5 separate regions of the Homo sapiens genome follow, and all the other regions are reported to be linked to region 1. Evidence: microRNA targets listed by miRTarBase, many of them from high-throughput screens and not tested one by one. Region 1 holds a microRNA gene; each other region holds the end of a gene's coding sequence.
What was found. The annotated mature microRNA hsa-miR-5582-5p reads UAGGCACACUUAAAGUUAUAGC and lies in region 1 at 2,700-2,721, opposite strand. An mRNA with a match to its seed (bases 2 to 7 or 8) in the 3' UTR can be bound and repressed. Matches are read on the target gene's strand: a 7mer-m8 pairs with bases 2 to 8, a 7mer-A1 pairs with bases 2 to 7 and ends in A, and an 8mer does both.

Region 1 (5,103 bases):
TAGTGTCCCTTTACCATAAAGCAGACCCCTATTCTGCTTAACCCTTTCACTCTCACCTCTTTAGTGTTTTCTTTAGAGCCAATCTTCTTAAAAATCTCAGCTAAGAAATCATTCACTTTGGCCTTTGATGATTTTTCATCCTGAAAAGTTGAAAGACATAGGAAGAATTGGTTAGACTTGAGTTATTAATTAGGAACTGATGGTTGGATATGAACAGAAAATATCTCAAAATCTGGGCCTTATTGGTATGTTCCTACAGATAACAGATGCACCGATGATGCAGGTCTTGCAGCAGAAGCACTAACATTCTGTGTTACTGAATGCCTCCAGTCTCAGATTTCCACCTCAACTTGATGGAGAAGGAACTGACATATTCTTTCCATGTTAAGCAGAACTAGCTATTTATCTGGTGACCAATGCCTTAGGCATCTTTCTTGGGGACCAAAAAACACATGGTTATACTTAGTTTAGATTTTAAAATTTCAAGGTGGAAATGGTTACTGCACCACAGCAGGAGACTGATTCAACCAGTCCATGAGCCTTCACCTTGGACCTTCGGAAAGCATATCCTGGTGACCTACACCTTAGATAAGATCACTTCCGGTGTAGCCTCATGTCCCTCAATCTTTCAAGTCAGGCCACTCACTATTCGAGATGCTCCCTTTTCTGTTTCCTTATCAGACTTGCTCCCAGTCTGGTCCATACTGTGCTTCATCATCCGGCAGAGATGGGCCTCCAGCTCAGACTCGTTTTTGTTGTCGATCATCGTTAGGTGGTCCAGGATCTGAGGGAGACACATGCATGACTGATAGCACTGCCATTTCCATGATTTTCTCTCAAGCTCCCTCAGAGACCAGTTGCGATTCTTACTCACCTTGGGCCCTTTTAATTTGCATAAGGTGTGTAGCAGGGTCTTTAGGGTCCTTATGGGAAATTCACTTTTGCATTGCTTCAGTTTCTCTTTGGGGAAGACCTTCATGAAAATGTGGATATCCAGAAGAATTCTGTCTAGGTTAATGCTATTGATGGTATCAGGCAACAGTCGAACCATTCTCCAGAGACACTATTGAAAAAAGAATAAAAGAGTTAGGAGTGACTGAAGAATGAGGATAATTTGTCACCATTCATCTTCCCTAAGCTTTGAGCTCACTTCTAAAAGATGGCCAGGGCTATAAATGTGGCACATCATATCTTTCAAGTTCAGCTGCTAAAACATGAAAATTTTTAATCACTTCTACCATGACACCAGCTGAAGTGTGTCCAGTCATTCATCTAATCATCCATCTCTACTCCTTCCCACTCCCCAGAGCTAGGGGCCATCATTTAACCTGGTAGAAATTCTCTCTTGGGTTTCCTTCGTTCCTGAGAGTAAAGTAGTTCATGTTGCTTAACCAAATCTAATGCAAGGGGACAAAATATCTGATACTAATTCAGTGTAATAACAGTATTACAATGTTATAAATATGTTCATTTGGTCTCTTTCACAAAAGAGACCAAATATCATAGGGCTGTAGATATCTTTTTCCCCAAAATAAATGAAATCTGTTTCAAACTTCTTTCCTTTTGATCCTCAGAGAATTAGTAAAATATTTACAAAATATTTCCTCCCTTTCACTGTTTGAGGCCACGAACTGTTTAGGCCTGAACTTAGAATATAAATTGTAGGAAGGGAAAAACTGAAGACCAATTCATATATATATATATATATATATATATATATATACACACACACACACACACACACACACACACACACACACACGTGTATTATATACATATATAACATATTAAGATATACATATATAATACATATATACATATATATAATACACATATATATAAAAAACCATATATATATTTTTTAAGAGATGGGGTCTCACTGTTGCCAAGGCTGGAGTGTAGTGGTATGATCAAGCTCACTTCTGGGTTCAAGTAATCTCCTCAACTCAGCCTCCTGAGTAGCTGCTACTATAGGTGCATGCCACTGCACCTGGCTAAATTTTTAAAAATTTATTAATATTTTTATTACGAAAAATATATTTTCAGGTGTGACTTGGTTGATTTGAGCCTATGTCTTTCTTAGCTCCAATTCCTCTTTCCCCATACTTTTAACAAAGTGATTGCATCTTTGAAAGAAAAGAGATCAAATCATTTCAACTTCACCTTCATAACAAGCTCTGAGAATTTGGGAGAACTGGCTGTTGCTAGCAGGCTGTCTTGGAGCAAAACAAGTAGGGCACTGGAAGAAAAACCCAACACAACAGCATTAAGTTTCAAACCTGCATTCCAATTAGAATCAGCAGTTGAAAGGGCAAGTGAGATTACTCTATTCATCTAATAAACTGAGAGGTCATGGATCAGGAATTGTCCTGGACTACCTGACATTCAGTTAAGAAAATAAACATTGTTTAAGCCTTTTAAGTCACCACTTGGTAAGTGTAAGGTTTGTGACTCTATTTTTCATTGTCATTGGTAGCTGAGAAAGAATAAAATGTACCTGAAATGTACAAGAAAAATGTAACTGACAAACTTTACAGTCCTATTATAGAAAATGCATGATATTGGCTGGCTAACTAAGTATTTACTAGTTTTAGCTATGGTCTCAGGCTAAAATACCTTTGGTCCATGATGAAGAAGAGTAATAAATCAACTTCCTAGGCACACTTAAAGTTTTAACTGATATAGTTATAACTGATGTAGCTATAACTTTAAGTGTGCCTAGGAAGTTGATTATGATTGTTAGGTTGCCTAGGAAGTTGACTTACGGACATTATGGTTTCTAAGTGTAAACAAAAGCGAGGATGCCCCAGGCTCTATTGGCTGAGAGTACAGATATACCTCAGGATGTTGGTCTGGTCTGACTTCTCCAGAACCTTCACCACCAAGAGGTTCACAGAGCGGATGACCTGTTGTCCTTCCTCAAGATCTTCAATCCGAGAATCCAGCATTAAGGTGATGAGGCCATGCATTAGGTCTTTTAGTACTCCAGTGGAGGCCTCCCGGGCAAGGCTCTCTATCTGAAACAGCTATCCAGACATACTTGTGTCAGGGAGGTGTAAAACTCAATATAGAGAGTAAAGAAATGTGGGTGGCATATTCTGATAAATATTCAATTATGTTGTATTTTTTTTTTGAGACGGAGTCTCCTCTGTCGCCCAGGCTGGAGTGCCAGTGGCGTGATCTTGGCTTACTGCAAGCTCTGCCTCCCCGGTTCATGCCATTCTCCTGCCTCAGTCTCCCGAGTAGCTGGGACTACAGGCACCCACCACCACGCTGGGCTAATTTTTGTATTTTTTTTTTTTAGTAGAGATGGGGTTTCACCGTGTTAGCCAGGATGGTCTCGATCTCCTGACTTCGTGATCCACCTGCCTTGGCCTCCTGAAGTGCTGGGATTACAGGCGTGAGCCACCGCGCCCGGCTATGTTATATTTGTAAAAATTCAGAGTATTAAAGAAAAAACAAAATCACCACACTCCCCCAAGCCTCTAGTAATAGGCAAAATTAATCGGTGTGCTTCTAATTGTGAAATTTTTTGTTTTTTTTTTGAGACAGAGTCTTGCTCTGTTGCCCAGACTGGAGTGCAGTGGCACGATCTCGGCTCACTGAAAGCTCCGCCTCCTGGGTTCAAGCAATTCTCTGCCTCAGCCTCCCGAGTAGCTGGGATTACAGGCGCCCGCCACCAGGCCTGGCTAATTTTTTGTATTTTTAGTAGAGATGGGGTTTCACCATCTTGGCCAGGCTGATCTTGAACTCCTGACATTGTGATCCACCCGCCTTGGCCTCCCAACGTGCTGAGATTATAGGTGTGAGCCACTGTGCCTGGCCAAAGTATTTGTTTTTACATGTGAAATTATTTACTGTTATGCCAAATTTGTAATTTCTGGCTAGTTGGTGTCATTAAGTCCACCCTTTTAGCCCCAGTTTAAGAAAGAATATTGAAATCTGAGTGAGAATGTCTTTATTATCCTTATAATCTGCTCTACAGGTAAAACATTAACAAATTTTTTCCCTTTTATTTTTAGTTGACATGTAATAATTGTACAAATTTATGGAATACAGAGTGGTATTTCAACACATGTATACAATGTATACTGATCAAACCAGGCTAATTAGCATTTTTAATAGAACCATACTTATCTGTGGAAAGGCAGCTATGGCCTACCATGCCTGATGAAGAAACTGGCCGGAAGAAGCTAGGTAGTCTGTAAGCATGTTACTTTATATCCTAACAGTAAGGTGGGATGGAGTGTAGCCAAACATCCAATGGAAGCCATCAGTAGCTTGCTATATACAATGCATGTAAAATTCTACCAAGTGACACAGGACTCACTGCAACATCTGCATGGACTCTGGCTTTTGAACCTCTGTAGGCTGAGAGATTGATGGGAAGCTGAAATTCTGCAGAGGTGCCCTTACCGAAATCATGTTGCCAATGATACAGCTATACAACTTGATGATCTCGTCCTTCTCCAATTTCTCATCTGCCATGTGTGTGTTGTAGATGAGTCTTAGCTGCATAAAAGTGGCTATCAGAAACTGATCAATATGGCCGGACATGGCTTCAGCTTTGTCTTCCTGTCTCAGGACCTCATCGATCTGATAACAAAAATTTCAAGATATATTTTCCAAGCTTCATACTTCTAAAATAGCGGAAGACACTATATGAAACTTCTCCATAAGAATATTTATTAGCAAAGTACTTCTAAAGTCTTACCTTAAAAAAAAGCCCATTTACTTATTTATTTTATTCATTTATTATTTTGAGAGAGAATTTTGCTTTCACCCAGGCTGGTGTGCAGTGGCACGATCTTGGCTCACTGCAACCTCCACCTTCCGGTTTCAAGTGATTCTCCTGCCTCAGCCTCCTAAGTAGCTAGGATTACAGGCGCCTGCCACCACGCCAATTTTTGTATTTTAAGTAGAGACGGGGTTTCACCATGTTGGCCAGGCTGGTCTCGAACTCTTGACCTCGTGATCCACCCACCTTGGCTTCCCAAAGTGCTGGGATTACAGGCGTGAGCCACCGCACCTGGCCCCATTTAAATATAAATAACTAGTCCTTAGGGATTCAGTCATTCGGCAAATATTTACTGAGCAAGATAC
Region 2 (5,103 bases), not on the chromosome of region 1:
GCAGCGGCACCTCGAGAGAGAAGGGCCCGGAGGGTGTCTCCCCAAGCCAGGCACACCTGCACAAACCCAGAGCCGACCCTCAGCTGCCTTCTAGGACACCTGTGCAGGGTCCCAGACCCAGGCCCCAGAGCAGCCCAGGCCATGACCCTGCCGAGCACGGTGTGTGATCTTTGCTGGCCGCCCACGCGGAGCACGGCCCGGGCCCCTTCTGCCTGTGCTGCCAACTATGCGCAGCATTCGGTTCCTGACCCTGGGGTTGACCCACTGACCCCGGGGTTGACCCACTGACCCCACAGAGTCCCCCCGTGCAGCCAAGAACGTTCCCAGGCAGAACTCCGCTCCCCTGCTCCAAACTGCTCTCCTAGGGAATGGGGAAAGGCCCCCTGGGGCGAAGGAAGCGCCCCCCTTGACACTCTCGCTGGTAAGTCATGGTGGGGCGGGCACAGGAGGGACCCCTCCTCTGCACCTTTCAGTGACCCTGTGACATGGCCCTTCCCAGGTGAAGCCAAGCGGGAGGGGAGCTGCGCCCTCCCTGACCTCCCAGGCTGCGGCTCAGGTGGCCAACCAGGCCCTGATCCGGGGTGACTGGAACCGGGGCGGTGGGGTGAGGGTGGCCAGCGTACAACAGGTAAGCCCGGCCCAGTCTGCCCCCGTCCCCTCATCCTCCTTTCCCCTTTCCCCTTCCCCCCTGCTTTTCCCTCCCTTCCCCATGCTTCCCATTGCCCCTCCAATGTCCAGTTCAAATCTCTCGAGGACCTCAAGGCCTCCCCTCCACTGCACCCCCTCTGATGGCCCCTTTATGTGACCCTCAACTGTACACAGGTCCCTCCCCGGCTTCCTCCGGAGGCCCGGCCCGGCCGGAGGATGTTCAGCACCTCTGCCTTGCAGGGTGCCCAGGGGGGTGCCAGGGCTTTGCTTGGAGGCTACTCCCAAGCCTACGGGACTGTCTGCCACTCGGCACTGGGCCACCTGCCCCTGCTGGAGGGGCACCATGTGTGAGCCGCCCTACTCCCTTCACCTGGCCCTCTGTTCCTGCCCCAGCCCCTTCCCCAGACCCCTCTCCAGTCTCCTGCACCCCTTAGCCCTCCCTGCTTTGCCTGGCCCGTTGAAGTTCCAGGGAGCTTGCCCGGGTCTCCTCGGGGGAGCAGATGAGGGCCCTGCCCCCGCCCCACTGACTTCCTCCAATAAAGTCATGTCTGCCCCCAACCTAAGCAGCCATCGTTCCTCCCCTCCCCTCTGAGGTCACAGCATCCACTAGCTGGGGGCCCCGGCCCCTTTCCTGAAGCCTCCACTCCTCTGAGGACCCCACCCCACCCCCGTCCTGAAACCTCCACCCCAGAGCCCAGTGCCGCCCCCTAGAGGCCCTGCCCACTGCACATCCAGCACTGGGCTTTTCCCTCCAGGTTTGCCTGGGGCAGCTTCTTGTTCTTTGTCCATCATTTCCTTACCTGCTGTGGCTTCAGGGTCCAGGCTGCCCCCCAGGGTGGTCCTGTGGGGTAGGGATGTAGGGTCACCCCCTGGCCATGTTTGTGACTCTGAGCCAGAGGAGAGAAGGGGAGAGAGAAGGGGGACACCCCTCCCCCTGCTGTCAGGGACTGCAGCCTGCGCCCCCTAGTATGGCCACTGCACCTGATCTGTCTTCAGGTCTCCGTAGGTGAGGGTGGGAGACAGACATCTCGCGAGGTCAGGGTTACCTCCTCTTGTCACCCCCAGGCAAGGTCCCTGGTGTGAGTTCAGGCCAGGGCTGTGCAGGGCTGCAAAGATCAAAGGGGCCCTGTGGGCACAGACCTGTGTCCTAGGGTGCCAGGTGTCCTCAGCTGCACCTGCCCATGGGTTGGGGTTGGAACACAAGGAGGCAGCTGGAAAGCTCACAGGCTGGAGGAGCTCACAGTCTAAAGGGCGCGGCCTGTGCTGTCGGTGGCGGAGTTGGGCTGCCAGGCTCACAGTCTGGGAAGCTCATAGGCCGGAGGAGCTCACAGTTTGAAGGGTGCGGCCTGTGCTGTGGTCGGTGTTGGGCTGCCAGGAGAGGGGCGCTGCTGGGTTGTGGAAGCCATTGCCACCATGGGGGAGGGCGGGGAAGGACAAGATGTGGGTGGGGGAGCTGAGCAGAAGGTGAGAGCTGGCGCTGCCCTGGTGCTGGACCAGGCACCTGCAAGAGACTCAGAAAGGGAGGCTGGGTTTGGGAGAAGGTTGGAGGAGGCGGAGGAGGGATCGGGAGGGCCCGAGGAAGCGGTGAGCCAGTCAGAGACCCAGCCCAGGGGCTGTTTCCTGAGGGGGCTGCCGAGGGAGGTGCTTGTTGAGCTTCAAAAGCCCAAGGCGCAGGCCCAGGGTGCTGAACAAGCAGGACAGAGAGGCTGTGGGAGAGGAAGCTGCAGAGAGGCCACGGGGCTGCAGGGTTGGAGGCTTGGCCTCAGGCTGGGCAGTGTGTGGTGGGGCTGCTGAGTGGGGAATCGCAGGTGGGCACCCAGGAGTGTGCCTGCACAGGGGGCATCGGGGACAGGGACAGGAGAGCAGCGTGAAGTTGGGGAGGCCAAGGTGGGCCTTGGAAGTGGAGCTGGGGGGTCTTTAGTGCCCCCCACAGGGGTGGGTGGTGGGTCCACAGGGGAAATCTGGGAGGCCACGTGGTTAAAGGCTGCAGGATGTAACTGGGCGATTATACACACTGGGGAACATGCTAGAATACTTTGTGTGTTGTGTTTTATTAACACCAAAATGTGCCACATCATGGTTTAGAAGAGGTGGAGGGTGCAGGCAGGAGGCTCCGAAGGCCCAGGCAGGGCCGCCAGCCTCTGGCCTCTCCATGGACTCCAGCTGGAGAGCCTGTCCGCTCAGCAACACCCCAGGCAGCACCAAGAATAACATGCCCACAAGAACATCATGGCCAAGAGACGCACAGGCGCATCCCGCTTCCAGGCACCTTTCCCACCTGGCCAGAAGTCCCTGCTGTCATCCCGACTTGCACGGTGGTTTTGGTAACCAGTGGGCTGTGCAGGAGTGAAAGTGGGGTCACTTTCCTTCCTTTCCCAGCTGCTGGAGTCGGAACTGCTGCCTTTGTTTGGCGGCCTTGTTTCTTAAATCAGTTCCCTCTTAGGATTTATTACACTAAAAAAAAAATTAGTTTTTGAAAAGAAATAGGAGAATACAGAAACATGAATTTCACGAGGCTATCATCTAACAGTGGGGGCTTTCTACACACGTGGTGCCAAAATGTGTCATTCTGAGTCAATTGCAATTCCTCTCTAGGAGTGAAAAGAGATAAAAGATAAGCCAAGAACCCTGGACAGATTCTTGGTGTTGGTGACAAAGAGGAAAGGACCTGAGAATGGGGCTGGTGGGGAGAGGGGGGTGTCTGCTGGATACCAGGAGGACAAGGACCACTCCCACCTGCAGGGGTGCCCAGGACCTAGTTGGGCTCGGCCTCAGCTGCACCTTGTCCCCTGCCCTCACCTGGCCCCATACCTGTCAAGGATAAGCACTCCACAACCAGCCCTTCTAGCGCCTGGCTTGGGCCGGGCCTGTGCAGGGGGTGCTCATGAGGCCGGGGCCACAGGTTGTCTGGACCATGTTTTACTGTGCTGCAAAGGCCAATGCCCCCTCCCCACTCTCACCCAGTGCTGGCCAGAGCCTCGCTGGAGGAGATGGCAGACCTGGCCAAGGCGCCCCTTCGGGCTTCCCTGTGTCCCGTCCCCAGAGGCCTGCCCTGTCCAGCTTCCTTGCCACTCCAAGGGGCATCTTCTGGTCCAGCTCCCCCCCCCCTGCCCCACCCACCCCTTGCAAACTGCCCGCAGCCAGCCCAGTCTTCCCCACAGCAAGAGACGGGCCTCCAAAAAAGATGCTGGGAGGCAGCGAGCAGGAGAATCCAAGTAGGAAAGGAAGTGAAGCCCAGGCGGGGGAGGGGGGAGACGGGGGGGGGGGGGGGGGAGGGAAGGAGGAGACCTTGAGAGAGGGAGGGAGCGGGGAGGGGGGAGGCCCTGAGAACAGGAGGCCCTGAGGAGGAGAAGGGCCCAGAGAATGAGGAATTGAGGCACAGAGGCGAGACCCTTGCAAGAGGATAGGGGACTTAGCGGGGTGCAAGGCTCACGCCTGTAATCCCCCCACTTTGGGAGGCTGAAGCGGGCTGATCATTTGAGGCCAGGAGTTGGAGACCAGCCTGGCCAACATAGTGAAACCCTGTCTCTACTAAAAATACAAAAACTACCTGGGCGTGGTAGCATACATCTGTAATCCCAGCTACTCAGGAGGCTGAGGCAGGAGAATCGCTGGAACCCGGGAGGCAGAGGTTGCAGTGAGCCCAGACCGCTCAACTGCACTCCAGCCCTAGGTCTCAAAAAAATAAAGGGGGCGGGGGGGACTGAGGCACAAAGAGATGGCGGAGCCAGACGCTGCGCCACGCAAGGCTGACGGTGCAGAGATGAAGGTGCTGAGGGGAGAAAGGCACTGGTGGCGAGGGGTGCAGCCCCAGCGTTGGGGAGGCCAGGGGGCAGAGACGGCAGCTGCCAGGTGAGCCTCCAGTGGAGCCGAGGTCTGGCGCACTCAGCCAAGCCCCAAGCGGCCGTGGCCTGACAGCCGCTGCTCAAGCAGATGAGCAGGGCTCTCTGTTCCGCGGGGCTTCTGGATGACCGGGGCAGCGATGCGGGCACCCTGGCCTGGGTTGCCAGGCCAGAAGACTCACTTCTTGCTTTTGAACGTGCCCAGGATCTTGGGCACGAACTTGCCCACCTTGCTGTCCCTGGTGCCCTCCTCCGCGGGGCCTTCCCCTGCCCCAGGGCTGCTGGCCTCCTCTTTCTTGCAGAAGACCTCGAAGCGGCTGTACACGCGCTTCTCCTTGCGCATGCTCTCCATGCGGCGCAGCAGCCGATCGCGCTCCTCCGCGCTGGCTGGCAGCGTGCGGCTCAGCCGGCCCTGGGTCCCCAAGCTGTCCGAGCGGAAGATGGCTGAACACTTGTCCTTGTCGGACATATCTGGGGCCAGGACGCCAGCAGCCGGTGGACGGCCTAGCTCGGGGCTGTTGTGGGTCGGGCCGGGGCTCGGGGCAGGGACCGCACGGTGCTTCTGGCCGTGGGCACTGATCTGCTCCAGAATGGCCTTCGTGTCATCCCGAAG
Region 3 (5,103 bases), not on the chromosome of region 1:
CTCTTTGTTTGAGTCTTGACTTGGTTCTTTGTTGAGGGCTTCTCATTTGACCTCAGTTGCTGGCTTATATGGACAGCAGCATGTATGTAGGAGATAGTTGAAGAGCTCTTGACTTGGATAAAACCACCCCATGTGGTCTAACCAATATAAAGCCTGCTACCAACCTCAAAACCTATTTCTTTGGAGTGGAGCAAAATGCCCCAATTTCCTGGTCCTACTGCTTTTCCAGGGGATAATTTATTATGTCATTCCAGGCAGGAGCTTCTACAGCTCTGATCACCACATTATTACTTTGGAGGTGATGTTCTTTGACTCCCCGACCTCCACAATGTACCATTAAGCCTCTTTCACTTACTTTTCCAGCTGAGAGCAGCAAATGTGTCTGCCGAGAAGCATCGGAGTGCGAGGAAGAAGGGTTTAGCATTTGTGTGGAAGTGAACGGCAAGGAGCAGACGATGTCTGAGTGTGAGGCGGGCGCTCTGAGATGCAGAGGGCAGAGCATCTCTGTCACCAGCATAAGGCCTTGTGCTGCGGAAACCCAGTAGGCTCCTGGAGGCCCTGGTCAGCTTGCTTGGAATCCAGCAGGCAGCTGGGGCTGAGTGAAAACATCTGCACAACTGGGCACTGGACAGCTTTTCCTTCTTCTCCAGTGTCTACCTTCCTCCTCAACTCCCAGCCATCTGTATAAACACAATCCTTTGTTCTCCCAAATCTGAATCGAATTACTCTTTTGCCTCCTTTTTAATGTCAGTAAGGATATGAGCCTTTGCACAGGCTGGCTGCGTGTTCTTGAAATAGGTGTTACCTTCTCTGGGCCTTGGTTTTTTAAAATCTGTAAAATTAGAGGATTGCACTAGAGAAACTTGAATGCTCCATTCAGGCCTATCATTTTATTAAGTATGATTGACACAGCCCATGGGCCAGAACACACTCTACAAAATGACTAGGATAACAGAAAGAACGTGATCTCCTGATTAGAGAGGGTGGTTTTCCTCAATGGAACCAAATATAAAGAGGACTTGAACAAAAATGACAGATACAAACTATTTCTATCCTGAGTAGTAATCTCACACTTCATCCTATAGAGTCAACCACCACAGATAGGAATTCCTTATTCTTTTTTTAATTTTTTTAAGACAGAGTCTCACTTTGTTGCCCAGGCTGGAGCGCAGTGGGGTGATCTCATCTCCCTGCAACCTCCGCCTCCTGGGTTCAAGCGATTCTTGTGCCTCAGCTTCCCAAGCAGCTGGGATTACAGGTGCCCGCCACCACGCCCAGCTAATTTTTGCATTTTTAGTAGAGATGGGGTTTCACCATGTTGGCCACGCTCGTCTCCAACTCCTGACCTCAGGTAATCCGCCTGCCTTGGCCTCCCAAAGTGCTGGGATTACAGACATGAACCACCACGCCTGGCTGGAATACTTACTCTTGTCGGGAGATTGAACCACTAAAATGTTAGAGCAGAATTCATTATGCTGTGGTCACAGGGGTGTCTTGTCTGAGAACAAATACAATTCAGTCTTCTCTTTGGGGTTTTAGTATGTGTCAAACATAGGACTGGAAGTTTGCCCCTGTTCTTTTTTCTTTTGAAAGAACATCAGTTCATGCCTGAGGCATGAGTGACTGTGCATTTGAGAATAGTTTTCCCTATTCTGTGGATACAGTCCCAGAGTTTTCAGGGAGTACACAGGTAGATTAGTTTGAAGCATTGACCTTTTATTTATTCCTTATTTCTCTTTCATCAAAACAAAACAGCAGCTGTGGGAGGAGAAATGAGAGGGCTTAAATGAAATTTAAAATAAGCTATATTATACAAATACTATCTCTGTATTGTTCTGACCCTGGTAAATATATTTCAAAACTTCAGATGACAAGGATTAGAACACTCATTAAAGATGCTATTCTTCAGAATTGTTTCATTTGTATGATGTTTCATTTTAGAGAAGATTTTCATGATGAATGGTTAATGTGTTCTTGCCTGAAGTTTTATGTCTGATCCAGATCTAGCTTTTTGTATCAAAGTGTGCCCTAAGGGAAGATGCAGATATAATATGTTGAAGTTACAAGGAGGCAGGTTTCAATTGGTTAAAAACAATGACATTCAGACATTGCAACTGCATTTGTTAGCGGTTATTACAGAGTTAATTTCTACCCTGGATGGGAGGACACATTTGAACATGCTAGGCCTGGATGCAGACCCTGAGACAAAAGGTTGAACAAGTAATTCATTTGGAAGGAAATACCTCAGTATCCTTCCAATAATTTCTCCTCTTAGCTTAAGCTAGTATGGAGTTAGATTCCTACCGCTTATGTATCACCATGCCCCCTTCCTAAATAATACAGAGGATATGGTCAGCATTATCACATATCATCAGAGATTGAGGTTTGAAAGAAAGGAAATGAGTAGATGTAACTAAGAGGTTTGAGAAAGGAATTTCAGCAGAGTTATTGAAGGAGAAGTCAAGGAGAGGAGAAGGAGAGGAGCAGTGAATGTTGTCGTGAAGAGGTGTTGTCTTGAAATACTGTATTTTTTTCCTCCTTTTCTTTTCTGAACATTCTTGTGCTGACCTTTCCTCTAGTCCAACAGAGGCATTCACAATTGCCTGTGGAGAATTAGGATTGTCGCAGCAGGTCAGCAAGGAGAAAGTCATTTTTAAGATTAAATTTTTAAAAATGTTTTGAAACTTCCAAAATAAGTTCTTGAACACCTATGGAGAGGCTTTGAGGAAAGTTAAGGGAATGATTTTATACCACAAAAATAAATGGAAAAAGAATAAAGACTGTGAGAATTCCATCTTCCTGCCCTTTCCTGTGCCTCAGATCAGGTGAGGGTCATCTGGGTTAGAAGGGGATAGAGCCTTGGAGGAGGCAGAGGGCAGAAAGCATTGCTGAGATTAGAGTCATTTGGCCCTCAGAAGGAACAGACAAAGAGAAGGAAATTGGCTGGTGCATTAATCATCACTAGCTTCAGGGAGCTATGTGGAGGCCAAGGCACATCCTACAGATCATCGCTTACCACTCATGAGGACGCTACAAGTTACCTGGGCAGAGAAGGTGCCTGAGAATATTTCCTAATCGTTTTGAGAAGTGCCTTCCTGTGACATCTTATGTATTTCCTAATTGATCAAAAGTAGTGCTGCTTCTCTAAGCCCTGAGATTTAATGAGCCCCATTCAAACTGTTATTAATGTAACCTTCTTTCCCAGTGCAGGATGACTTGTAATCACCTTGAAAGAGAAGGAGGGTTCTTCGTATTCAGGTAGGGTATGGTAGGGATGTGGAGTGCCAAGCAGGAAATCTGACAAGTGACCCCCGGAACTTTGGATTACCTAGCAACTAGCCAGGTAACTGGCTAATCTGATTGAGGGTTGCCCTCTTTGCTGGGCAGATCATGGCTAATCTCAGCTTCACATGAGTCTTGTGAACCATCTAGTTGTTTTGTAACTGCTAAGAGCTGCAAGTGCTGAGCAGCTGGTTTATACAGCATTCCCTGAAACAGCCTAGTATGTGTCCATTTATGTGCCCGGCTTATTATGTGTCCACTTATGTGTCCAATTAGTAATCACTTTTTCTTTCGGTCAAGGTATGTGTATTAATCAATATTTTTTGAACCCGTCCTGTCTCAGTCTGTTTTATGCTGTTATAACAGAATATCACCAACTGGGTAATTTATAATGAGCATAAATTTATTTGGCTGCTGGTTCTGAAGGCTGGGAAGTCCATGAGCATGGTGCTGGCATCTGGCAGGGCCTTCATGCTGCATCATCCTATGGCAAAACGTGGAAGGGCAAGAGAGAGCAAGAGGAAGCAGGGGCTGAACTCGTTTTTATAACAAAAGCACCCTCATGATAACTAACCCATTCCCGTTACAACAACACAATCCATTCATAGCAGCAGAGACCTCATGTCCTAATCACTTCTTATGAAGGCTTGCCTCCCAACACGTGCATTGGAGGTTAAGTTTCCAACACATGAACTTTGGGAAACACATGCAAACCACGGCACCATGGTTTATCATTATTCTGTATTTTCTTTATGTTCCTATTCACATTTCTTATACACACATACTCACCCACCACAGGCATTTGGATTATTTGGAGATAATACACACATACTCACACATAATACACACAAACTTACTCACTTATACACACATACTCACCCACCACAGGCATTTGGATTATTTTCACAGCATAATAGCTAGTGGAAGTGGTCATCATCATAAACTTGAAGAAAACTTAAGATATTGCATACTTTGGGCACAAGATGAAGTGGGTATTCAGGGGTATCCAATACTTCTCTTTCTCTTCTCTGAAGTAGAGCGGATAGACAAAGAAGAGAAGAGAAAAGAAAAGGGGAGGCAGGAGAGATAGAAAGAGAGAGATAAATTGGGCCATTCTTAGTATGGGATTGGCAGAACTGAGTAGCCATACCAGTCCACTGAGATTTTTCTTCCTTGATGGACTAGTTAAAGCGTACTCAATACTTGTGTTAGAAACAGAATGGCTTGTTTCTTTCTCAGAACACTAAGCCAGAAAAGCGACATCAGTAGGAGGCAATTTCCATTAATGTCTGAGAAAACAGGTTTATGCCTGCCTTTCAATTACCTTGGACTTTCAGGCCATTCACACATTTGTGGACGAGAAAGCTGATGCCATGATAGGAGCCCCTGCTGTGACAACCAAAGCACCTACAATTTGTCTTTTTATTTATTCCTGTCAGGCTGTGAAGGCAAAGCTCTAGATTTACATTCAAGATATCAATCACATAGAAAAATTTGCTTCCTCAGCCAGGGGTTAACAAGACCAGATGGAAAGACTGCCGTTGTTTGAAAGGGGTGGGCTGGAGGTGAGAAGGTGGGCAAGAGAAGAAAACATGAAAATGTTCTTTTCAATTCATAGGCTGAGGACAATTTCCTGTGAAAAGACAAACATAGGAACTGCTCTGTTATCACTGTTATTTCCATGCATCTCTATGAGAGGAGACTTGCACTGAATTCCAGGGAAGGGGACTTAGTTATACGGCAGATCAATGATGTCCAAGACAGAGAAACATTGACTGAAAAACGAAGCACATGCGATGTTGGCTTGAGGGTCTATTACAA
Region 4 (5,103 bases), not on the chromosome of region 1:
TCCTTTGGCAGGTTTTATTAACAGATTTCATGGAGGTCTAGAAAAAAGCTTAACATGGCCGGGTGTGGTGGTGCATGCCTGTAATCCCAGCACTTTGGGAGGCTGAGGCAGGCGGATCACTAGAGATCAGGAGTTCAAGACTAGCCTGGCCAACATGGTGAAACCCCATCTCTACTAAATATATAAAAATTAGCCGGGTGTGGTGGCGGACGCCTGTAATCCCATCCACTCAGGAAGCTGAGGAAGGATAATCGCTTGAACCCGGGAGGCGGAGGTTGCAGTGAGCCGGGATTGTGCCACTGCCCTCCAGCCTGGGTGACAGAGCAAGACTTCGTCTCAAAAAAAAAAAAAAAAAAAAAAAAAAAGCCCAACAGACTAAAGAGCTTCCCAATTAGTTCCTCAAACTGATACTCATCCTTCCATCCTGAGGGGCGACCCCATAGTTTACAGCCCTTACACAGTGTTCAAAGCTGCGTGGTTTACGTCATTTTCCTATAGGTACTTTGTTTCTCCTGGAAATCTGTGGGCAACAGAGATGTGATGCATACCTTCCCAGATCTCCTCTCTTCAAGAGGTTTAATGTGTGTCCTCGTGTGCACACAAGGAAGGATGGACTGGAGACATTTGTCCTCCCCTACTTTTTTCTTGAGCCCTGGGGGCCCTGTGCCTAGTTCTGTCCCAGCCTGCCTCAGGGCTCAGCTATTTTAAGTTTTCAGGGTAATATGAGCCTTTCCTTCCCTTACTACTTCATTCCCTTCACCCCACCCCCACCCCCACCCCCCGCTTCAATCCAAACTCATCCTAGAGTAGAATAATAATTTTACGCCTAAAACCCAAAAGACTCACAGACAAGGAGAGAAATGAAGAAGCTGAGTAGATTATAGATCAGGGCAGCTGGGGTGAGCAGTCGTGGAAATCAAGAGGATGAAGAGGTAACTTACGTTCGGGATTCCCTAAGTCAGTCCACAGGCTGTAGAGGGAGCTGGGAGCCTCGAGGCCTTGATGGTGGTGCTGGGGAAAAACTGGTCCTCTTCCTTGGGGGCTAAGCCCCCCCAGTACCCCCTGTGTTCACACCAGCTACCCAGTCGCTATTTGTAGACCTCCTAGCCTCCTGCCTTGGTGTCAGGGCTGAAATGACAGGGCTGGAGGAAAGTGGACAGCTGAGAAACACAGCTGACACAGAGAAATTGGACACTGAGAGGTCTGGGGCAGGGCCGGACCCTAACTCCTCCCAACCCCCTAGAGCTGCTGTTCCTTGATTCTTCATCTAAGGCGAACAGGTGAATAATGGCTGAATTCAGGAAGGGACAGTTTCTGTTCATGCTCATTTAACATTTAAGGGGAGTTTATTTTTATTTTTCATTTATTTTTTGAGACAGGGTAAAAAAAGACTAATTTGAACTCATAGAGCTCTCCTATCAGCCATACTAGATGGCTTTTTTTTTTTTTTTTTTGAGACAGAGTCTTGCTCTTGTTGCCCAGGCTGGAGTGCAATGAAGCGATCCGGGCTCACTGCAACCTCCCAGGTTCAAGCGATTCTCCTGCCTCAGCCTCCTAAGTAGCTGGGATTACAGGCGCCCACCACCACGCCAAGGTAATTTTTGTATTTTTAGTACAGATGGGGTTTCACCATGTTGGCCAGGCTGGTCTCGAACCCCTGACCTCAGGTGATCCGCCTGCCTTGGCCTCCCAAAGTGCTAGGATTACAGGTGTGAGCCACCGTGCATGGCTAGATTGCTTTTTATCTGTAGGTGGTTGGAGGAGTACTTTGCTATCCTGTAAGAAAGTGAAGAATATGTAGTATTGCTTCATTCCCTCCAGCAGCTCCCAGAGACATCTCCCCACCCTCCTTCTTGTAAAATTTTGTCCTCAGACTGAAGGGAATTACCAGGGCTATTAAAAAGGGCCAGTTAACACTGGACAGAAGCATATAGCTGCCACATAAGGAATTTTTTAAATCATTTCTAAGTAATGTCCCCTTCCTCATGAGAACTGCAAACTCTTAAAGGTAGGATGGCCAACCCTCACACTTCCTAAACCCTTTTGATTCCCTGATTCCATCTCCCACCTTTGATGCCTCAGTATATAACTGATGGATCAAAGAGACAGATGCCATTCTCATCTCACAGGGGTGCACCCTTCTACTCTTTGGGCTGTGACATGGATGAAAGAGGAGATACTCCCATCTCAGGGGAGAGCAATTTAGAGGTGGCAATGCAGTGCTGCTCTATTCCTTGTATCTGTAAGAAATAAAGGACTGTGTTGGAGACTGGGTCAGGCAAGCTCCTGTAGGATCGTCGTTAGGGATACAGCTACTTGGACCCAAGAGATTTCCAGGGCAACGTGCTTTGTCATTCTCACCCACTACTTTTTTCTATTTAAGGGGGGAGTTTGAAAAGGGGGTGCAGGATGGTTCTGACTCTGCAGGTTCTTTAATGGCCCTGCTCTGACAGGCTGCAGAACAACAGGGCTTGCTTTGAGATGCTCTAAAGGAAAAGCTCCATCTTGCAGGCAAGATGACTTCTGCTCTTCGTCTTTTTTCAGCCACATAGGACAGGGACTGCTGAGCATGTTTGGATAATACAGCATCTTGGCACTGCGAGTTCAGTTGCTGTAGCTTTCATTGTAATAAAAATCTGCTTCTGTCCCTGACAGGTAAAACCCAATCCTCCAGCTTTAGGATTAAAGAAAGGCAGCCAGGCACGGTGGCTCACGCCTGTAATCACAGCACTTTGGAAGGCCGAGGCGGGTGGATCACAAGGTCAGGAGTTCGAGACCAGCCTGGCCAACATGGTGAAACCCCATGTCAACTAAAAATACAAAAATTAGCTGGGCACGATGGGGCACAGCTACTCAGGAGGCTGAGGCAGGAGAACTGCTTGAACTCGGGAGGTGGAGGTTGCAGTGAGCCGAGATATCGCGCCACTGCACTCCAGCCTGGGCAACAGGGCGAGACTCCATCTCAAAAAAAAAAAAAAAAGAAAGGCCCAAGTTCTCCATCCCTAAAGGGTTTTCAGAAGACGAGCTGGGCTGGGAGTGGTGGCTCATGCCTGTAATCCCAGCACTTTAGGAGGCCAAGGCGGGAGATCACTTGAGCCCAGGAGTTCAAGACCAGCCTGGGCAACATGGTAAAACCCTGTCTCTGCCAAAAATAGCAAAAAAAAAAAAAAAAAAGATTAGCCAGGCATGCTAGATCGCGCCTGTAATCCCAGCTACTCGGGAGACTGAGGCACAAGAATCGCTTGAACACGGGAGGCGGCTGCAGTCAGCTGAGATCTGCCACTGCACTCCAGCCTGGGTGACAGAGCAAGACCCTATCTCAAAACTCAACTACAAGGGCCCTAAATGAGTACACAGTACCACAGAATTAATAGTCTGGAAGGAAACCTAGAGGTCACCTACTAAGTCCAAGTCTCTTATTTTACTGATCTGGACACAGATCCAGAGTTGAGAAGTGATATGCTCGATGAACCACAGTGGCAGAACCGGGAGAGCCCAAAGCCATGGTCCCATTAGAGATCTAGCCATCTATCAGAACCGTGTACAGGGAAGAGGATGAGACAGAGGGAATGGTGTTAAAATAGTGTGCGTATGCTAGAGAAAGCCATCCCAACCCACGACAAACACCTCCAACAGCTGTAGGGCTATACCTACCCAGGGCCTCCAACCCTTTACCCATACCAGGGCGGCAACAGAGAAACAGTGACTGATGTCCAGTGACAGATTTTTTTTTTTATATTTAAAAACAAAACCAACCTCCCCCCAAATAACCCCCAAACAAACAAAAAAACAGATTAAATAAAATTTACAGTGAATATACCCAGCAAACATCTGTATGTGCAATTAAATACTGTGTCTGTTACTGCGGCACGAACCTCAAACAAACAATATACAAGTGTTCTGGGGGGGCCAGGGGAATCCCAAGTTTTAACTCTGTGGGGTCTAGGAAGACAAGATGGGGAAGTGAGAGAATGGGGCAATCAATTTTGTTTATCTTAATTCTGTCCATATAAATATATTCATAAAGACCAAAAAAGGAAAGGAAGCTTGGGATGTTAAGGTAATAGGAGGACAGTGTGGGACTTTCCCAATTCTACCTGACCAAAAAATGAGAAATTAATTTTATGATAGGAGAAGAGATTTAAAAAAATGATAGAAGAGGATGGAAGCCAGGCACAGTGGCTCACGCCTGTAATCCCAGCACTCTGGAAGGCCAAGGCAGGTGGATCACCTGAGGTCAGGAGTTTGAGGCCAGCCTGGCCAACATGGTGAAACTCCGTCTCTACTAAAAATACAAAAATTAGCCGGGCATGGTGGCGCGTGTCTGTAGTGCCAGCTACTTGGGAGGCTGAGGCAGGAGAATCACCTGAACCCAGGAGCTGGAGGTTGCAGTTAGCCAAGATCGTGCTACTGCACTCCAGCTGGGGTGACAAGAGCGAAACTCCGTCTCAAAAAAAAAAAAAAAAAAAAAAAGAAGAGGATGGGAAGAAGAGTGATGCAAGGGGGGTCAACCAGGGAAAAAGAGAGGACCCATGGCAGGGGAGCAAGAAGGAGTCCAATGCCAGTGTAGGTATCTGTGTTTCCATCTTCATCACTGTCTTAGGTTCCAGTTTAACATCAGTTTCCTTACTTCCTGCCTCTGTCCATGGTCTGTCAGGATCCTTCAACCCCCTCCACCCTGCCCTTGCTCCTTCTGTGACAGTCCCTTTCCCCTCCTCCATTTATTGGGAGCTGGCTCGCTCCAGGATCCTCAGGTCATAGTTCTTTTTGGCCATTCGAAGTTTGAAGCGACTCACGGAGTTGTTGAGACGAAGGGAGGCATTTTGGGCAGCCAGGGGGCTGGGGAACACAGCCACAATGGTGTACAAGGCAGCGAGGTCCGAGTGGCGGCCATTCTCAGCAGTCCCACTGTTGTCCCCCCCACCCCCTCCAGGCAGCCCCTGAGCATCCTTGAGCCACTGGATCTTGGCGCCAGACATGGCGAGCTGCGTGAAGAGTTTGTCCGCCTCAGTACGGGTGATGCCCTCAGGGAGATCTGTCACCTCCAGCACCCGCCCCAGGACTGGAAGGGGAGGAGAGAGGACATGGTTGTGAGAGGAATAG
Region 5 (5,103 bases), not on the chromosome of region 1:
AAAAGACAAGGACAAGAGAGCACGGTCTTGGGCATGGTATGAGCTTGCTGCCCCCTGCTTTGTCCTTGAGTTGCTTGGTTTTGGGAAGTGACTTCAGCCTCTGGCTGTCACACTTAGGGTTTCACTCTAGGGCAGTGGCCAGGGCTTACTAACCAGAGAGGTGGAGGCAGCCAGCAGAGGCACCTGGGCTCCCTACAGCACTCTCCTTTGTTTCCTCTTAGATGTGAATGAGTGTGATGACTTGAACGGGCCTGCTGTGCTCTGTGTCCATGGTTACTGCGAGAACACAGAGGGCTCCTACCGCTGCCACTGCTCCCCGGGATATGTGGCTGAGGCAGGGCCCCCCCACTGCACTGCCAAGGAGTAGCAGTCAGGGGTCAGTGTGGCAACTACCTGGAAATGGCCTCCAGTCACAGGCAGGGGCCTTGAGGATGATTTCCTAGCTGGGAAGACACCGTGACATCAGGCCAGAGGTTTCCAATCAGCCTTGCCTGCTTTCATCTCTCCCAGCTTAGCCTCTGGCTGTAAGCTTCGGTCATTGCCTCCATGCCCTTGCTTGGCTCAAGCACCACCAATCGCTTTAATGCTTCAGCCACCGCATGAGGCCCTGTCCACCACCTTTCCTGGCCTTGCTATGGGATGCTTACCAAAGGATGGCCCTCATCCACCCTCCCAAGCTGTGCGAGCATGCAAGGCCCCATGGCCTCACACTGCAGACACCCCTTTCCAGCCACAATCCACCATCATCCTGACGATCCCACAACTGGGACAGAGGCTACATCTGCCCTAGGGAGGTCCTTCAGAATCTGTGGAGCAAGAAAGGATTTGGGGAAGCTTGGGGACTGACTCCAGAGCCCCCTCCTAAGAACCATCACCACCACTCAGCCAATCTGTTCTGGGCCCTGATTTTGCCACACCTCCATCCTGTAGCCCATTCTCTGACCCCAAGGAGTGGCAGAAGATCCCTTCACTCAGAGAAGCAAGGCTGATATTAGCTTGTTGAATGTAAGAGACACAAATGAAGAAGAACAAAGAGCCTGAGAAAGCAGCAAGAGGACATGATGAAAAATACGTGGAGTTGATGAGAAAGGGGAGCCAAGGCTTTATACGTCTAAAGAAAATATTCAGTAGCTGAATCCGCCCAGTGATAGCCTGTGGGCACCAGCAGCAAGGGCTGCCATGGGATACAGCACCCATCTACAAAGACCTCTATTACATAAACACTGCTTCTTACAGGAAACAAACCTCTTCTGGGATCTCCTTTTGTGAAAACCAGTTTGATGTGCTAAAAGTAAAAAGTCTATTTTCCAGTGTGGTCTTGTTCAGAAGCAGCCAGATTTCCAATGTTGTTTTTCCCCTCCACTCAGAAACCCCTGCCCTTTCCCTTCAGAAAACGATGGCAGGCATTCCTCTGAGTTTACAAGCAGAGACTCACTCCAACCCAAACTAGCTGGGAGTTCAGAACCATGGTGGAATAAAGAAATGTGCATCTGGTCTCTTCTGTTGTTTTTATTTCATATCAGATTAAATTTCTTTACCATGTTGGCTAAGTCTAAATATTAGAGATGAGGCTGTGCCTACTCCCTGGCCAGCTCTGCTGATAGCCTATGATGGGTTCCAATGGGAAATGACTCTTTACTATTAAAAGACAAGGAAAGCTCTGACTTCGTACTTCTCTGATGAATGGCAATGTAAATGAACAAGGCTCCATGTGACTGGAGCATGGAAGTGAATGCTACTTTCTTAATTTAATCTGCCCTGTCCTACCTGCTCCTCTGATTGTTAGCCATCACATAACTTATTGAATGCTTGCCATGTGCCAGGCACTGTGCTGAGTGCCATACATACATTTCATTTAATTATCCAATAATCCTACTTACTATTGTTTATTCTCAATTTACAGGTGAGGAAACTGAGACATAGAAAGCTTAAATAATTTGCTCTAGGTCCCTATACTAATTGAGATGTTTTCAGCAGACAAAAATAAGTCACTCTTACGCATGTAAAAATATTCTTTCACTCATAATAAAAGAAATGCAACTTAAAACCATACTGAGATCCTTTTTAAAACTGTCAGATTGGCAAAGATCAAAAAGCTTGTTAAGACTCCTAGCTGGCAAGCATGTGGGAAATAGGTACTCTCATAACAGCTGACAGAAGTACATATTGAAGAGGACAATATGGCAATGTCCTTCAAAATTATAAAAGCACTAACTCTTTGATCCAGTAGTTTCCACTTCTAGGAACTTAACCTTCAGATATATTTTCACCAGATATAAAATGACATACGTAAGAAGTTATTACTGCATCATTTGTAATAGCTAAAGATTAGAAACAATTAATTGCTATGGAACCCTTAAAAAAGGTGGCTCTAAATTCCTTAAGAAAGATATCCAAAACAAATTAAGGGGAAAAGGGAGGGTTGCATAACAGCATGTAACATAACACTATTTGTCTAAAGAATGGGGAAAGAGAAGCGGTTGTCTGTTCACCTCATCCTTGCCACTCCGCCTTATACCTCACCATCGGAGAACTTACCATCCCCCAAATATATCCTGCTGGCACTACACCTTCGTAACTGCTGTTCCCACTGCCCCCACAACACTCCAATCTCCACCTTCCTGCCAACCTTGAGATATTGTATGCATATATACATATTTCCTTTGTTTAAAATACAAATAGCATACTATGCATGCTGTTCTGCACTTTGCTTTTTTTTTATACTTGCAATTAGAGCTGCCTCATTTCATTTTACAGCTGTATACTATTCCATTGAATGGATAAACCATAATTTATTTAATCAGTCCCTCACTGACAGACGTTTCCATTGTTTCCTGTCTTTTGCTATAAATAATGCTGTAATGAATATTCTTGTGCATATTTCACATTAATTTATGGGATTACATCTGCAGGATAAATTCTTAGAACCAATGGTGGTTTGTGGGGAGGGTGACAGGGTGGATAGGTACAGGATTGGGAGACTTTTCACTGTATCTCCTTTTGTATTTTTTTGAATTTTGTACCATATGTATCACCTATTCAAAAAAAATAAAATATTTTTAAATACAGTTGCTGGCCAAAGATTGCTTAAATGCTCCTTCTCTTTATATATTTATCTGACTATAATTTACAACTAAAGCCAGGTGCTAATTATGTCAAAATTCCTTAATGCAAATTTGTCAGGCAGCCCTGTGGCATTTTTATGAAGAGTGGAAAATACGGATTTTAAAAGAACGATCATAAACATCAATGCTAGATAGGAAGAAAAATAGAAGAGATTCCTTCCTTTCAGACAAAACATGCAGTGAACAGTGTTAGGCCCTGCCCAAAGCCAGCTGCACAACATTAGCTTGGGTCCAGATTTCAAGGGAGAGCTGTACCACCACGATCAGTGCTGCCCACTTCCCTATACCAGGTTGATCCTGCCAAATGCCACCCCTGCACTCTAATGCTTTATAACAAACGACAAAACAACAGAGCTCGATTCTCAGAAGTTACAGAAAGAAGAGTCTCTTCCTGAACACCTACTTTAGTAGTCCTTCCTAATCTTTTACTTCTCAACTTCTTTCCTCCTATCCCTTGTAATCACTCAACATTCCCATACGAAGAAACTATGGGTGGGCCAGGCATGGTGGCTCGTGCCTGTAATACCGGCACTTTGGGAGGCTGAGGCAGGAGGATTGCTTGAGCCCAGGAGTTCGAGACTCCTGTGCAACATGGTGAAACCCCATCTCTACAAAAAATACAAAAAGTAGCTGGGCTTGGTGGTGTGCACCTGTAGTCCTAGCTACTTGCAGGGGCTGAGGTGGGAAGATTGTTTGAGCCTGGGAGGTAGAGGCTGCACCTCTGCACTCCAGCCTAGGAGACAGATTGAGACCCTGCCTCAAATAAAAAGAAAGAAACTAAGAGTGGATGGGACACATAATTTACATACCCTTGGTCACTCTCATCACATAACTCAAGTATGGTACCACAATAAGATCTGGGCATTGACCAAGAGACCTTCTCTTTGAAAAACAACATAAAGTCTCCACCAATGGAGACTTCCTGCTGCCACTTCTGGTTTCCCAATGAAGCTTTCTCAGTGTGAAGTAACATGATTTTCCCAAATCCGCCTTTTTTTTTTTTTTTTTTTTTTTTGAGACAGAGTCTCACTCTGCCACCCAGGCTGGAGTCCAGTGGTGCAATCTTGGCTCACTGCAATCTCCACCTCCTGGGTTCAAGTGATTCTCTTGCCTCAGTCTCCCGAGTAGCTGGGATTACAGGTGTCCACCACGCAGTTAATTTTTGTATTTTTAGTAGAGATGGGGTTTCACCATGTTGCCCAGGCTGGTCTCAAACTCCTGACCTCAGGTGATCTGCCTGCTTTGGCCTCCCAAAGTGCTGGGATCACAGGCGTGAGCCACCGTGCCCAGCCCCAAATCTGCCTTTTTCTAAACATAAAATTCCAATTCTCCCATTAACAGTAGATACTCACATATAAGCTGCATTCTAAGGGACTGTTTCTGTCTAGTGCACCACTGTAATTTGATTGATTTAGCAACAAAAGCTGTTCTGCTCGTGCTCAAGAGTTTTAAAACCACAAAATCAATAAATAACCCACAAAAATATTCTTAAAGAATATATTCTAATGTTTAAAATGTAGCAAAATCTTTTTAAGGAGGATGAAAGGACAGGTAGTCTGAACTGAAACCCTATCAGGCGCAGGTACTGGCGGCACTGTCTTGGTCATGTGTGCACACAGATGCTCCCATGGTATGCTGCTTTCTGCCTCCTTCCACCAGCTCTAAGAAATGTGCTCAGGTTTCTGAGTGTCCCCTTCTCTCCTCTAACCGCATGATAGGTTTGTTTTCTCTAAGTCCTAGGTTTTGCCATGTTGGAAATGTATCTAAGTTTCTGTCTCAGATATTTTCTAAACTCTATTTCCATTTTTTTAAATAGTAAATTCTTACTAAATGACCTTAATTCCAATCCAGTGCAGAAATGCAAGTCTTTACTGTAACAAACTTCTAGGCTCCCAAGCAAAAGATGGATTTAACCAGTAACTCTTCCAGAATCAACTTGGTTGTAGTTTCTCCAACATCAGTATTAATAAATCATTCG

Region 2: the mRNA of FAM83H is a reported target of hsa-miR-5582-5p. Seed matches in the 3' UTR shown: 7mer-m8 at 4,355-4,361 and 7mer-m8 at 4,023-4,029.
Region 3: miRTarBase lists C7 as a target of hsa-miR-5582-5p. Seed matches in the 3' UTR shown: 7mer-m8 at 1,225-1,231 and 7mer-m8 at 2,811-2,817.
Region 4: miRTarBase lists R3HDM2 as a target of hsa-miR-5582-5p. Seed matches in the 3' UTR shown: 7mer-m8 at 4,172-4,178.
Region 5: the mRNA of LTBP2 is a reported target of hsa-miR-5582-5p. Seed matches in the 3' UTR shown: 8mer at 1,573-1,580.

The regions. Positions count from the first base shown.
Region 1 is chr11:46,750,472-46,755,574 of GRCh38, forward strand. MIR5582 (microRNA 5582) reads right to left here and starts at 2,721; the gene lies at 2,654-2,721. CKAP5 (cytoskeleton associated protein 5) reads right to left here. Exons shown (of 44, transcript NM_001008938.4): 36 at 4,417-4,596; 37 at 2,839-3,026; 38 at 2,164-2,239; 39 at 875-1,063; 40 at 647-784; 41 at 57-140.
Region 2 is chr8:143,721,253-143,726,355 of GRCh38, forward strand. FAM83H (family with sequence similarity 83 member H) reads right to left here. Exons shown (of 5, transcript NM_198488.5): 5 at 2,681-5,103. The coding sequence ends at 4,669. It overlaps MAPK15 (mitogen-activated protein kinase 15), which reads left to right. Exons shown (of 14, transcript NM_139021.3): 11 at 1-159; 12 at 297-421; 13 at 500-628; 14 at 823-1,206. The coding sequence ends at 999. Among named protein-coding and RNA genes, the nearest start is that of MAPK15, 7.5 kb to the left of the region's middle. RefSeq lists an enhancer at 1,871-2,372.
Region 3 is chr5:40,981,029-40,986,131 of GRCh38, forward strand. It overlaps C7 (complement C7), which reads left to right. Exons shown (of 18, transcript NM_000587.4): 18 at 364-3,615. The coding sequence ends at 545. Among named protein-coding and RNA genes, the nearest start is that of C7, 74 kb to the left of the region's middle.
Region 4 is chr12:57,250,052-57,255,154 of GRCh38, forward strand. R3HDM2 (R3H domain containing 2) reads right to left here. Exons shown (of 24, transcript NM_001394031.1): 24 at 3,713-5,062. The coding sequence ends at 4,722. STAC3 (SH3 and cysteine rich domain 3) reads right to left here and starts at 1,136. Exons shown (of 12, transcript NM_145064.3): 1 at 942-1,136.
Region 5 is chr14:74,496,148-74,501,250 of GRCh38, reverse strand. It overlaps LTBP2 (latent transforming growth factor beta binding protein 2), which reads left to right. Exons shown (of 36, transcript NM_000428.3): 36 at 222-3,068. The coding sequence ends at 367. It overlaps ISCA2 (iron-sulfur cluster assembly 2), which reads right to left. Exons shown (of 4, transcript NM_194279.4): 4 at 4,145-5,103. Among named protein-coding and RNA genes, the nearest start is that of ISCA2, 4.9 kb to the right of the region's middle. RefSeq lists a silencer at 171-465 and an enhancer at 152-1,147.